Linked DNA regions of Homo sapiens: region 2 is linked to region 1. Evidence: fine-mapped expression QTL. A gene starts in region 1. The other region holds a variant in brackets. All regions are shown on one strand. Distances are from middle to middle. Region 1 holds the start of ATG14 (autophagy related 14). Region 2 overlaps ATG14 (autophagy related 14).

Region 1 (5,530 bases):
ATTAGTGTCCTGATTAGCTGAAGCTCCATATAAATATAAGTAGTACAAGTACATGACCCTTAGCACAACGTGCCTGCATAATTTGGAAGCTGGAGGTAATGGTGGTGTTTGGTTGTTGGTGAGAGATGAGTAGGGACTAATACTTCTCAATGGTGGAGACTGTTTGATTCATGTTTTTATCCCTGTAATTCCTACAGCAGTTATGATTTACAATTTCTTGAAACAAGACTTTACGAGTGACAGTAGTACAGTTTTCCCCTCTAATAATCCCTTCCCATGCACTAAAATTTAAAACTCTTTTAAATTTAGAATTTTAAACTAAAATTTAAAACAAATTTAAAGCTCATTTGTCTCCATCTGTTATCAATATTAGGGAATCAAGATGTTAACTAGAGAGGACGTGGATCAAAAGAAGTCCCTTTTGCTGGTAGCTAAGTGCCCGCAGGTGCTGATGAAATTACTCTGAGGCCATATTCATGGCACATGTAGAGATAACATTCCACATTTCATACTGAGCACTGTGTGAGCAAAGATGACACCCACAGAGAAGTTCTAGAAAACTCTGCTCTAAGGTTTCTGTCTTGTGGAAATATGGCTGTAGTTGCCAAATTATTTACCCGGAATAAATGCCATTTCTCAGGTACAGCTAAAGAGATGTCATATTAAAAGTAATTGGAGACAATACAATGAAATTTTAGTGTTTAAGTAAATGTTGGTATTTTTATATTAAAAATTATATAAACCTGGATTTCTTTATAGGTGCCAAAGAACGTTCTGAGATCTATGAAGCATTTGAAAACATCTATCCTATTCTAAAAGGTTTTAAAAAAGCCTGAGCATATCATTCAGCATCTCACATTATTCTGGTTTGAATATGTCCATAAGCCCAGCACAGAAACAGCTGGATTCTTCTACGTTTAATTGTAGATGTTACAAGTACGTTACTTATTAAAGGGCGACTCTGTGTAAGTAACCTAAGAAACGAAGAAAAATTCTTATTCAAAATGACTCCTTTTGTGTTATTTTAAAAACTGAACAAGTAAACATTTCAAAATTTGAGAGATTTAGGGTCTCACTAGAATGATATTGTAGCATCATGAAGACTCAATGCGTTTCCTTTTAGCCGGAAGGGCCATCTTCCAGTAATTTGCCAAAATGACGAACACAAAGGGAAAGAGGTGAGGCACCTGATACATGTTCTCTAGGCCTTTTAGAAAAGATGGAGTTGTTCCTTTGGCCACATACATGCGAATCTACGAAAAAGGTGATATTGTAGACATCAAGGGAATGGCTGCTTTTCAAAAAGGAGTGCTCCGCAAATGTTACCACAGCAAAGCTGGAAGAGTCTACAGTGTTACCCAGCATGCTGTTGGCATTGTAAACAAGGGCAAGATTTTTGCCAAGAGAATGAATGTGCTTACTGAGCCAGGCTGGTCTTGAACTCCTGACCTCAGTTGATCCATCTGCCTGGGCCTTGGCACTCTAAGAGCCAAGTAAGTTTCCTGAAACGCGTGAAGGTAAATAATCAGAAAAAGACGTCAAAGGGAGAGGTGTCTGAGTTCAACTGAAGCGCCAGCCTGCTCCACCCAGACAAGCACTTAGAACCAATGGAGGGAGCCTGGGCTGCTGGAACCTATTCCCTATGAGTTCATGGCATAATAGGTGTCAAAAAAAATTCTGAACTGTACAAATGTTTCTCTTCATTGAGAAGTGTGGCGCCGCCCCCTCCCCTTAAAGAAATATTTAAACTACATTTTGTATCCAAAAACCTCAGTGCTCTGCTGTTAAGTAATACATTAATATGCGTTCTCTGAAAATATATAGCAACATATAGGAGTTTCAAATAACTGCATAAGCTAGATACTATCTGTGATATCATCTAGCACGATAGGAATTAATGTGTATTTTTTGCCTTTTAAAATATTGAACAGTTGATCCTGATCATTAGGTATTAAGCACTGTGAAGGATCCTGTCTGAATACAAATGAAACATAAGCCCGAGACCTTAAAAAATAATCCTTTTGTTTGAAATGATCAGAGAGAAAGACTTCTCACTTAAAAATAAATCTTAAACTTTCAGGAACCATTCAAGTTTAGTGTAAACTGTATTCTGAATATAGAGAATTTTTGCTTTTGCTTGTTTTTGTAATCCTACGTGATTTGTATTTAAAAAGACTGGGTAAGATTAAGAAGACGGAGGAGCAAAGGGCTCAGATTCAAGACCTAATTAGCTTGTAGAATCACCAGTTTTCGATGGTGATGTGGAGATTAACAGGGAGGGACGGGCTAATATGAATCATGGCTCTTGGCTGTAAATCATCAGTGATTACGTCCTTTACCAAAGTAAGAAAACAGGTTTGTAGGGAGGCAGAAGTCAGTTTCCAACACTTTGAGTTTGTGGTGTCCTGGAATGTCACCTGATACCTAGTAAGTAGTTCTGGATCTTTGGGTATGGAACTTGAGAAAGGAATCCTGGCTAGAGAGAGAATTCAGGGCAGTTTATCAGTAGATAGCCTAGTAAAATCATCCTTGAGAATCACTGGTCTATTTAATCTCACCTATAAACTCACTTTTCTCTGTAGTTTAGAGGCATATTCAAACACTAATTACTCTGATATGATCCTCCCAACACATCACCTTATATATCCCCTATCCACCAAAAGAAACTTGAAGGGAAGTCCTAACCATCTACCTAGTTCAAATTCTCTTAGAGCATGGCCCAGGGTAGGGAAGGTACGTTAGCCACGTGATTAACTTTTCAGAAGGATACAATTCTGATTTTGCACGTTCACTTTGGTTGTTTTCACTATTGGTAAAGTATAATACTATTAACCATATTAATCCTCACGGCATTAGATGGGTACTATAATTCTATCCATTTAACACGAGAGAACAGGCGCAGAGAGATTAAGGAACTTGCCCCAAGTCACACAGCTATTAAGCAGGTGAGTGAGCCAAAATTCAACCTAGTTCCAAGACCCAGCCCCTTCACCCTACTTTGTTTGCTGTAGTTTAGCCAGATTTTAAAGCATCCACAGCAAGTTAAATTCCCTTATTCCGCTCCCATTCCGTTTTCCCAGAATCCTTAGGGTATGGTATTACAATTTTCTGCACAAGTTTGAGGCTTTAACTCGTAGTCTTGGCCTGAGCCAGCAGATGACATTTTGTTTGGCCGACTAGCCCCTCTAATATAACTCTCCCCCTGCTTCGGGACCTGTTGCCCCTCAGCAGACCGGAAAAACAACAGTGCCCGGGACAGGAACACGCGGCGGCGGAGGGGTCCGGGGGCTCGCCGGCATCCCAGCCCCCCTTCCCCAGGCCCCTCCTCCTGGCCCAGAATGCACCCGGTTGAAAACAAAATCCCACGTGACTGGCTCTCCTCTCAGGCCATCATGGCGTCTCCCAGTGGGAAGGGAGCCCGGGCGCTGGAGGCTCCTGGCTGCGGGCCCCGGCCGCTCGCCCGGGACCTGGTGGACTCCGTGGACGATGCGGAGGGGCTGTACGTGGCTGTGGAGCGCTGCCCGCTGTGCAACACTACCCGCCGGCGGCTGACCTGCGCCAAATGCGTTCAGAGCGGCGATTTCGTCTACTTCGACGGCCGCGACCGGGAGAGGTACGGCGGCCGCCACGGCCCTATTGTTTCTTCTGCTGTGTGTCCTCCAGCCAGGCAGCCGAAGGCTGGAACCTGGGGCTCCCCGTCCGGGCACCAGATACCAGCGAGAGGAGCGAGAGAGAGGGAGTGTAGCTAGCTGCTCTGCACCGGAGCTTTGCTACCAGAGGACAGCGTAGGGGCCAGATGAGGGAAGGTCGCCGTTTCCCCATCACCCACCCAAGAGGAGTTTGACCCCACGGTGCTCTTGGTCACTGGGGAAAAAAGGAATAAGTGGTGACTCTCTGGAGAAGTTTTCCCGTTGCTGCCATTAAGTTAGATTCCCAGCTCTTTGCTGTATGTACTCCCATTCAAAAGCTTGGCTTTCTATTTTCGAAAGCATATTTATACTCATTCTCTAGAGGAGAGAGTAGAAGAGAATCAAATAACTGCTTTAGAGGGATTTGGGCCTGGTAGTCTGTCACAGATGGACTTTGTTATCAGACATGCTTACTCTAATGTGTGAATTGAGGCTTGCTGTTAACGCCCCTTTCCCCTCCCTGCCTCTAAAGATTATTTTAGATTCTTAGGAATTTGGGAACGTGTTTTGGCCTTGTTTTAAAATTCAGATTGGGAGCTGCATGCTTTTAGTTAAGAGAATTGCCTTTAGGAAAATGTTTTGGTTTCATTTCGAAATCTAAACAGCTACAAGTTCTTGGTTAAGAAAATTGAAAAATTAGTGTGATTAGCTGCAGGATCTCCCACTCTCAACTTATGTTTCAACAATTTAGTGTCAATGATAGTCAATGATAGTAAGATAGCTAGCATTCTGAGCACAAAAATTCAGGTATTAATTCATTCGCAACAACCGAATGACTTATCCCCAACTTATTAGGAAGCTGCACAGTAAGTGCTTTGCCCCAGGTCACACAAATAGTTAAGTGTTGGTACAAGAATTAAAATTCAGACAGCTTGGACCTATGTACCCGCACTTAACCACTAGACTTTATATCCTCTATATTTGGGAATGTTTTGAGTTCTTAGTATTTCTGTGATCGTGGATGGAGTTCTTTCCTTTCTCTTTTGAGGAGGTTTGAATGACAAACTCTTTTTTAGTTTTGTTGCTGTGTCTTATTGGTGCTCTTGATGACTTTAGAAACTGCTTATGTAGTAAGTGATAGCTTTAAAAATTAAACCAGTTATAAGAATACGGGGTATGAGATGGAAATGTCTAACTGATGGAGTGAATCGAGGATTTGGTTCTGGACCTTCTTGTCTGTCTACACGTTTTACTATGTCTATTCACATAATTTAAATACCATCTATATGCTTAAGACTGCCAGACTTGTATCTCCAACCTAGTCTTCTCTAAAGTCCAGAAAACAGCTGCTTATTCAACATCAATATTTTTAGATTTGTAATAGATATCTTCATTTTAATATGGCAAACTGAACTCCTTGTTTTCCATCATAAATCTGTTTTCCCATGCTCATCCCAACCCAGTAAATGTCAATCTCATTGTTCCTTTGGTTCAGGCTAAAAAACCTTTCAGTTCTCCTTGACTCCTCTCTTAACCCAACTCTGTTTAGTCCCATCAACAAATCCCATCTACTCTTCAAAACTTATCTTACAACAAATCCCATCTACTCTTCAAAACTTATCTTAAATCTTACCCTTTCACCATCACCTGGTCCAATCTACCAGAGACATAAACTTATTTCCTCTTATGTCTCTGCTTCCGTCCTTGCTCCCCTTTTGTACAATTTCCATATTGCAGCCACAGTTATGCTACTCCTCCATTTCTGTTCAAATCTTCCAGTGGTTTTTCACTTTACCCAAAGTAAAAGCTGGAGTCCTTAACCAAAGTTCTATATTATCTGTTCCTCTGATTTAATCTCCTATTATTTTCTCCCTTACCTAATCTGCTGTGCCACTGTGGCC
Region 2 (5,000 bases), 21 kb after region 1:
ATGGCTTTTAGATTTTGGGTATGTATATTAAGAATTGGGTACAAATTGAAATGTCTGTGTACTGATCTTCAACACAACCAGTGAAATCTCAATTATGAAGGAAAAAAAGGGCCAGGCACGTTGGCTCATGCCTATAATCCCAGCACTTTGGGAGGCTGAGGCAAGTGGATCACAAGGTCAGGAGTTCGAGACCAGCCTGACCAACATGGTGAAACCCCATCTGTACTAAAAATAGAAAAATTAGCTGGGCATGGTGGCACACGCCTGTAATCCCAGCTACTCAGGAGGCTGTGGCAGGAGAATCACTTGAACCCAGGAGACAGAGATCACAGTGAGCCGAGATTGCGCCACTGTACTCCAGCCTGGGCGACAGAGCAACACTCCATCTCAAAAAAAAAAAAAAAAAAATTATGATACTGTGTAGTTGTTAAAAAGAATGTGGTCAGTCTACGTGCTGTGGAATGATGTCCAAGTTGTATTTATTAATGGAAAAAAATAATAAACTAGGATAAAGTATGATTTCATTTATGTATTTTAAATATAAATATACTCTTATAAAATCTGCGCTGGGTGTGGTGGTGGATGCCCTGTAATCCCAGCACTTTGGGAGTCCGAGGTGGATTGCTCAAGCCCAGGAATTGAAAACCAGCCTGGGAAACATGGCAAAACCCCATATCTACAAAAACGAACAAAAACCAAAAATTAGCCAGGCATGGTAGTATATACCTGTAGTCCCAGCTACTTGGGAGGTTGAGGTGGGAGGATCACTTGAGCCAGGGAGGTCAGGCTGAAGTGAGCTGTAATCACACCACCATACTCTAACCTGGGCAACAGAGTGAGACCCTGACTCAAAAAAAAAAAAAAATCTGAAAAGATACACATTAAACTTTAATTTTAAAGGATTACCCCTGAGAAATGGGAAGGAGTCAGGCTAACAGTCACATTTTCTGTTTTTCTTCTGTAATGTGTAATTTTTTTTCACAACAGTAAACATTATTCATATATTTCTTTTTTTTTCCTCTTTTTTTTGAGACAGAGTCTCGCTCTGTCACCCAGGCTGGAGTGCAGTGGCGCGATCTCGGCTCACTGCAACCTCCACCTCCTGGGTTCACACCATTCTCCTGCCTCAGCCTCCCGAGTAGCTGGGACTACAGGCGCCCACCACCACGCCCGGCTAAGTTTTTTTGTGTTTTTTTAGTAGAGACGGGGTTTCACCGTGTTAGCCAGGATGGTCTCAATCTCCTGACCTCGTGATCCGCCCACCTTGGCCTCCCAAAGTGCTGGGATTACAGGCGTGAGCCACCGCGCCCAGTCATATATTTCATTATACTTAAAATTTGTGATAGAAGTGAATTTTGCTTATTCTCTGAATGTTTTAGTAAACAAAACATGTTCTGTGGAAGATTTTCCTGAGTTTTCTGTAATGTTTCTAGTTTTTCTATCTAAGACTTCAATATTCATTTCTAAAGACTCTGTTACCTTTTAAAATTGAGGATAGGTCATATCTGATATATTTCTGAACCCCTCAGTCCCTGTGGATCTGTTTTTGAATGTCTGACTCTATTCGAGATGTTAGAGTTTCGCTCACCATAACATCCCTGTAATCTGTTCTGTGTCTCTTACCATCAGACTACTTAGATAAGTGTAACACCATGAACATTTGAGCATTGTTTTAAGCTTTTAATTATTCACTTTACGGAGTCATTAGAGAATAATCATTCTTTTTAACTAACTAGTAGATCCTTCTTTTTTTTTTTTTTTTTTTGAGGTGGAGTCTTGCTATATCACCCAGGCTGGAGTGCCGTGGCACAATCTTGGCTCACTGCAACCTCTGCCTCCTGGGCTCAAGCGATTCTCCCACCTCAGTCTCCCTGGTAGCTGGGACTATAGATGCATGTCACCACACCTGGCTAATTTTTTGTATTTTTGGTAGAGATGGGGTTTCGCCATGTTGCCCAGGCTGGCCTCGAACTCCTGAGCTCAAGTGATGTGCCTGCCTCAGCTTCCCAAAGTCTAGGATTACAGGTGTGAGTCACTGCACCCGGCCATAGATCCTATTTTTATTGATCCTTTGTTCACTTTAAGGCAGGGGTCCCCAACCCCCAGGCCACATATACCTACTGGGCTGTGGCCTGTTAGGAAACAGGCCATACAGCAGGAGGTGAGTAGGGCAAGTGAGCATTACCACCTGAGCTCCACCTCCTGTCAGATCAGTGGTGGCATTAGTTTCCATAGGAGTGCGAACTCTATTATGGACTGCACATGCGAGGGATCTAGGTTGTGCACTCCTATGAGACTCTAAAGCCTGATGATCTGAGGTGGGACAGATTCATTCCTGTAAATCATCTGCCACCCTGTCCGTGGAAAAATTGTCTTCCACAAAACTGGTCCCTGGTGCCAAAAAAGTTGGGGACCACTGCTTTAGGGGGTGCTGAACCTAACTCCTGGTAATATAAAGAGTCAATTTCATGTTTCATATAATTTTCTGAGGCTTTTCAGGAAATCTTACTTGAGTTATGCACTGAAAAAATAATGTTTTTTGCCATTTTTATTAACTTGCAAGTACTAGTTGCTTATTGGGTGAGATGACTTGGTTATGTTAACCGTCTCCTCAGTAACCAGAACTAGAGGTTTGGAGCTGCACGTCAGTAGGACTTTGCGTGATGATGCTTGAGTTCTGTATCTGCGCTGTCCAGTCCATTAGCCACTAGCCATATGTGATGTCAAACATTTGACATGAGGGTGGTGTGAGTAAGGAACTGAATTTTTGATTTTGTATGATTTAAATTGAGTTTTAAGTAACCACATGTGGCTAGTAGCTATATAGCTAGAGC[G/A]GGTTTAGAGAATGTCCTTCAACTTTTTTCTCTTTGCTTACTGATACATACAAAACTATGTGAATTTCTTTCTCGTAATTTCCCTTTCCTTTTTTTTTTTTTTTTTTTATGGAGTCTCACTCAGTTGCCAGGCTGGACTGCAGTGGCGTGATCTCGGCTCACTGCAAACTCCGCCTCCCTGGTTCAAGTGATTGTCCTGCCGCAGCCTCCCGAGTAGCTGGGATTACAGGCATGCGCCACCACGCCCAGCTAATTTTTGTATTTTTTTAGTAGAGATGGGGTTTCACCATGTTGGCCAGGATGGTCTTGATCTCCTAACCTCTTGATCTGCCCTCCTTGGCCTCCCAAAGTGCTGCGATTACAGGCGTGAGCCACCGCACTGGCCTAATTTCTCTTTTCTCTGCATTGAACTAGAAAAACATCGTTCTCTTTTTCGTAATGTTCCATAGTTACAAAAGCTATAACATAAGGTCTTTTTCTTCATTATGTTTTCTGACATATCTGAAAATAAGCAGTGATCCCAGGTAGATAATCATATTAACCATAAGAGACCAACGTTTGTGATATTTATTACATGCTTTTTTCAGAGATGGAAAATAATGTCCTGCAAGATGAGGATTGAACAGTTAAAACAAACAATATGTAAAGGAAATGAAGAAATGGAGAAAAGTAAGTAATTCGTGTCCTTCCTTCCAGCCCTAGAAAGTGCCTATGTGGAATTTCATGGGATTAATAAACTAGAGGGACACAGAAAGGAAGGGGATGGTGGGGCAGTGGCAACTTGGAGAATTTTACTACTCGCCCTCATCTTTCCTTGTAAAACATTTGTATAAGGAATTTTTAAAAGTTAAATACACAATTTCAGAGGCCTTAAATAACCAGATTCTTTTCTCAATTAAAAAAGTTAGGCGCCAGGCGTGGTAGCTCACGCCTGTAATCCCAGCACTTTGGGAGGCTGAGGCAGGCGGATCACAAGGTCAGGAGATCGAGACCATCCTGACTAACATGGTGAAACTCCGTCTCTACTAAATACAAAAACTTAGCTGGGTGTGGTGGCGGGTGCCTGTAGTCCCAGCTACTTGGGAGGCTGAGGCAGGAGAATGGTGTGAACCCAGGAGGCAGAGCTTGCAGTGAGCTGAGATTGCGCCACTGCACTCCAGCCTGGGCACAGAGCCAGACTCTGTCTCAAAAGAAAAAAATAAAAAAGTTGGCCAGGCACGGTGGCTTATGCCTGTAATCCCAGCACTTTGGGAGGCCGAGGGGAGTGGATCACCTGAGGTCAGGAGTTTGAGACCAGCCTGGCCAACATGGTGAAACCCCATCTCTACTAAAAATACAAAAATTAGCCGGGCGTGGTGGCAGGCACCTGTAATCCCAGCTACTCAGGAGGCTGAGGCAGGAGACTTGCTTGAACCTGGGAGGCGGAGATTGCGGTGAGCTGAGATCGTGCCATTGCACTCCAGCCTAGGCAACAAGAGCAAAACTCTGTCTCAAAAAAAAAAGTTAAGGAATGTATGTTCCCATTTGCCTTGGCTAGCAGGAAGCTCAGAGTCTTAACTTGGTACTCACTTGTAATAATTATTGGCCCATGCCAGAAGCACAGAATATTGTTTTTTTTTTCCCTTAGTGAGTCTCCACATTGTAATCTGTATTAATCTTACATCATATTTGTACACTTTATACTTTATCATAGATCGTTGTCAAAATGAATTCTCTTAGAAGTCCTACATCCTTAAGCCACTTCCCATTTGCCCCAAGAATACTCGTTTCTAATCCTAATGTAACATCATATACATTTCTATTACATTAGGATTAGAGACAAGTTCTGTTTAGAAATAACTCCAAGAGCAGTTTTTATATTTTATTTTCACATTGAAAATCAGATTTACTTCAGACTCAAAGAGCATGTTTATGTAACATTAAATGAGTGCCGGCAGCAAGCTGCAGTCCATGAATTTCTGAAGATCACTGTTTAAAGTTTAGAATGAGTCACCATCAGACCTCGTGAATCCCTTTTTCTTGTCTACTCATTGCTTCCAGAAGCAAGTCTTTTATAGTGGCATGTAATGGTGTAAAGCTTCCATTGAAAACATTTGTCCTAATAAAGTGCTCACGTGGAGTTTCACGGGATTACTAAACTAGAGAATTAGGGCAGCACACTGAACA

The links. PIP is the estimated chance that this variant, and not a neighbour inherited with it, causes the effect.
Region 2: its variant is the best candidate, but not a certain one, in a credible set for the expression of ATG14 in whole blood (TOPMed, PIP 0.57).

What each region holds. Positions count from the first base shown.
Region 1 is chr14:55,409,685-55,415,214 of GRCh38, reverse strand. It overlaps ATG14 (autophagy related 14), which reads left to right and starts at 3,385. Exons shown (of 10, transcript NM_014924.5): 1 at 3,385-3,613. The coding sequence starts at 3,393. It overlaps TBPL2 (TATA-box binding protein like 2), which reads left to right. Exons shown (of 7, transcript NM_199047.3): 7 at 760-1,005. The coding sequence ends at 836. It also overlaps a transcript of FBXO34 not described here and the pseudogene RPL21P6. RefSeq lists a silencer at 3,096-3,395.
Region 2 is chr14:55,389,414-55,394,413 of GRCh38, reverse strand. It overlaps ATG14 (autophagy related 14), which reads left to right. Exons shown (of 10, transcript NM_014924.5): 4 at 3,422-3,503. It also overlaps a transcript of FBXO34 not described here and the pseudogene HMGN1P1. Among named protein-coding and RNA genes, the nearest start is that of ATG14, 20 kb to the left of the region's middle. The variant G/A (reference allele first, on the strand shown) is at 2,835.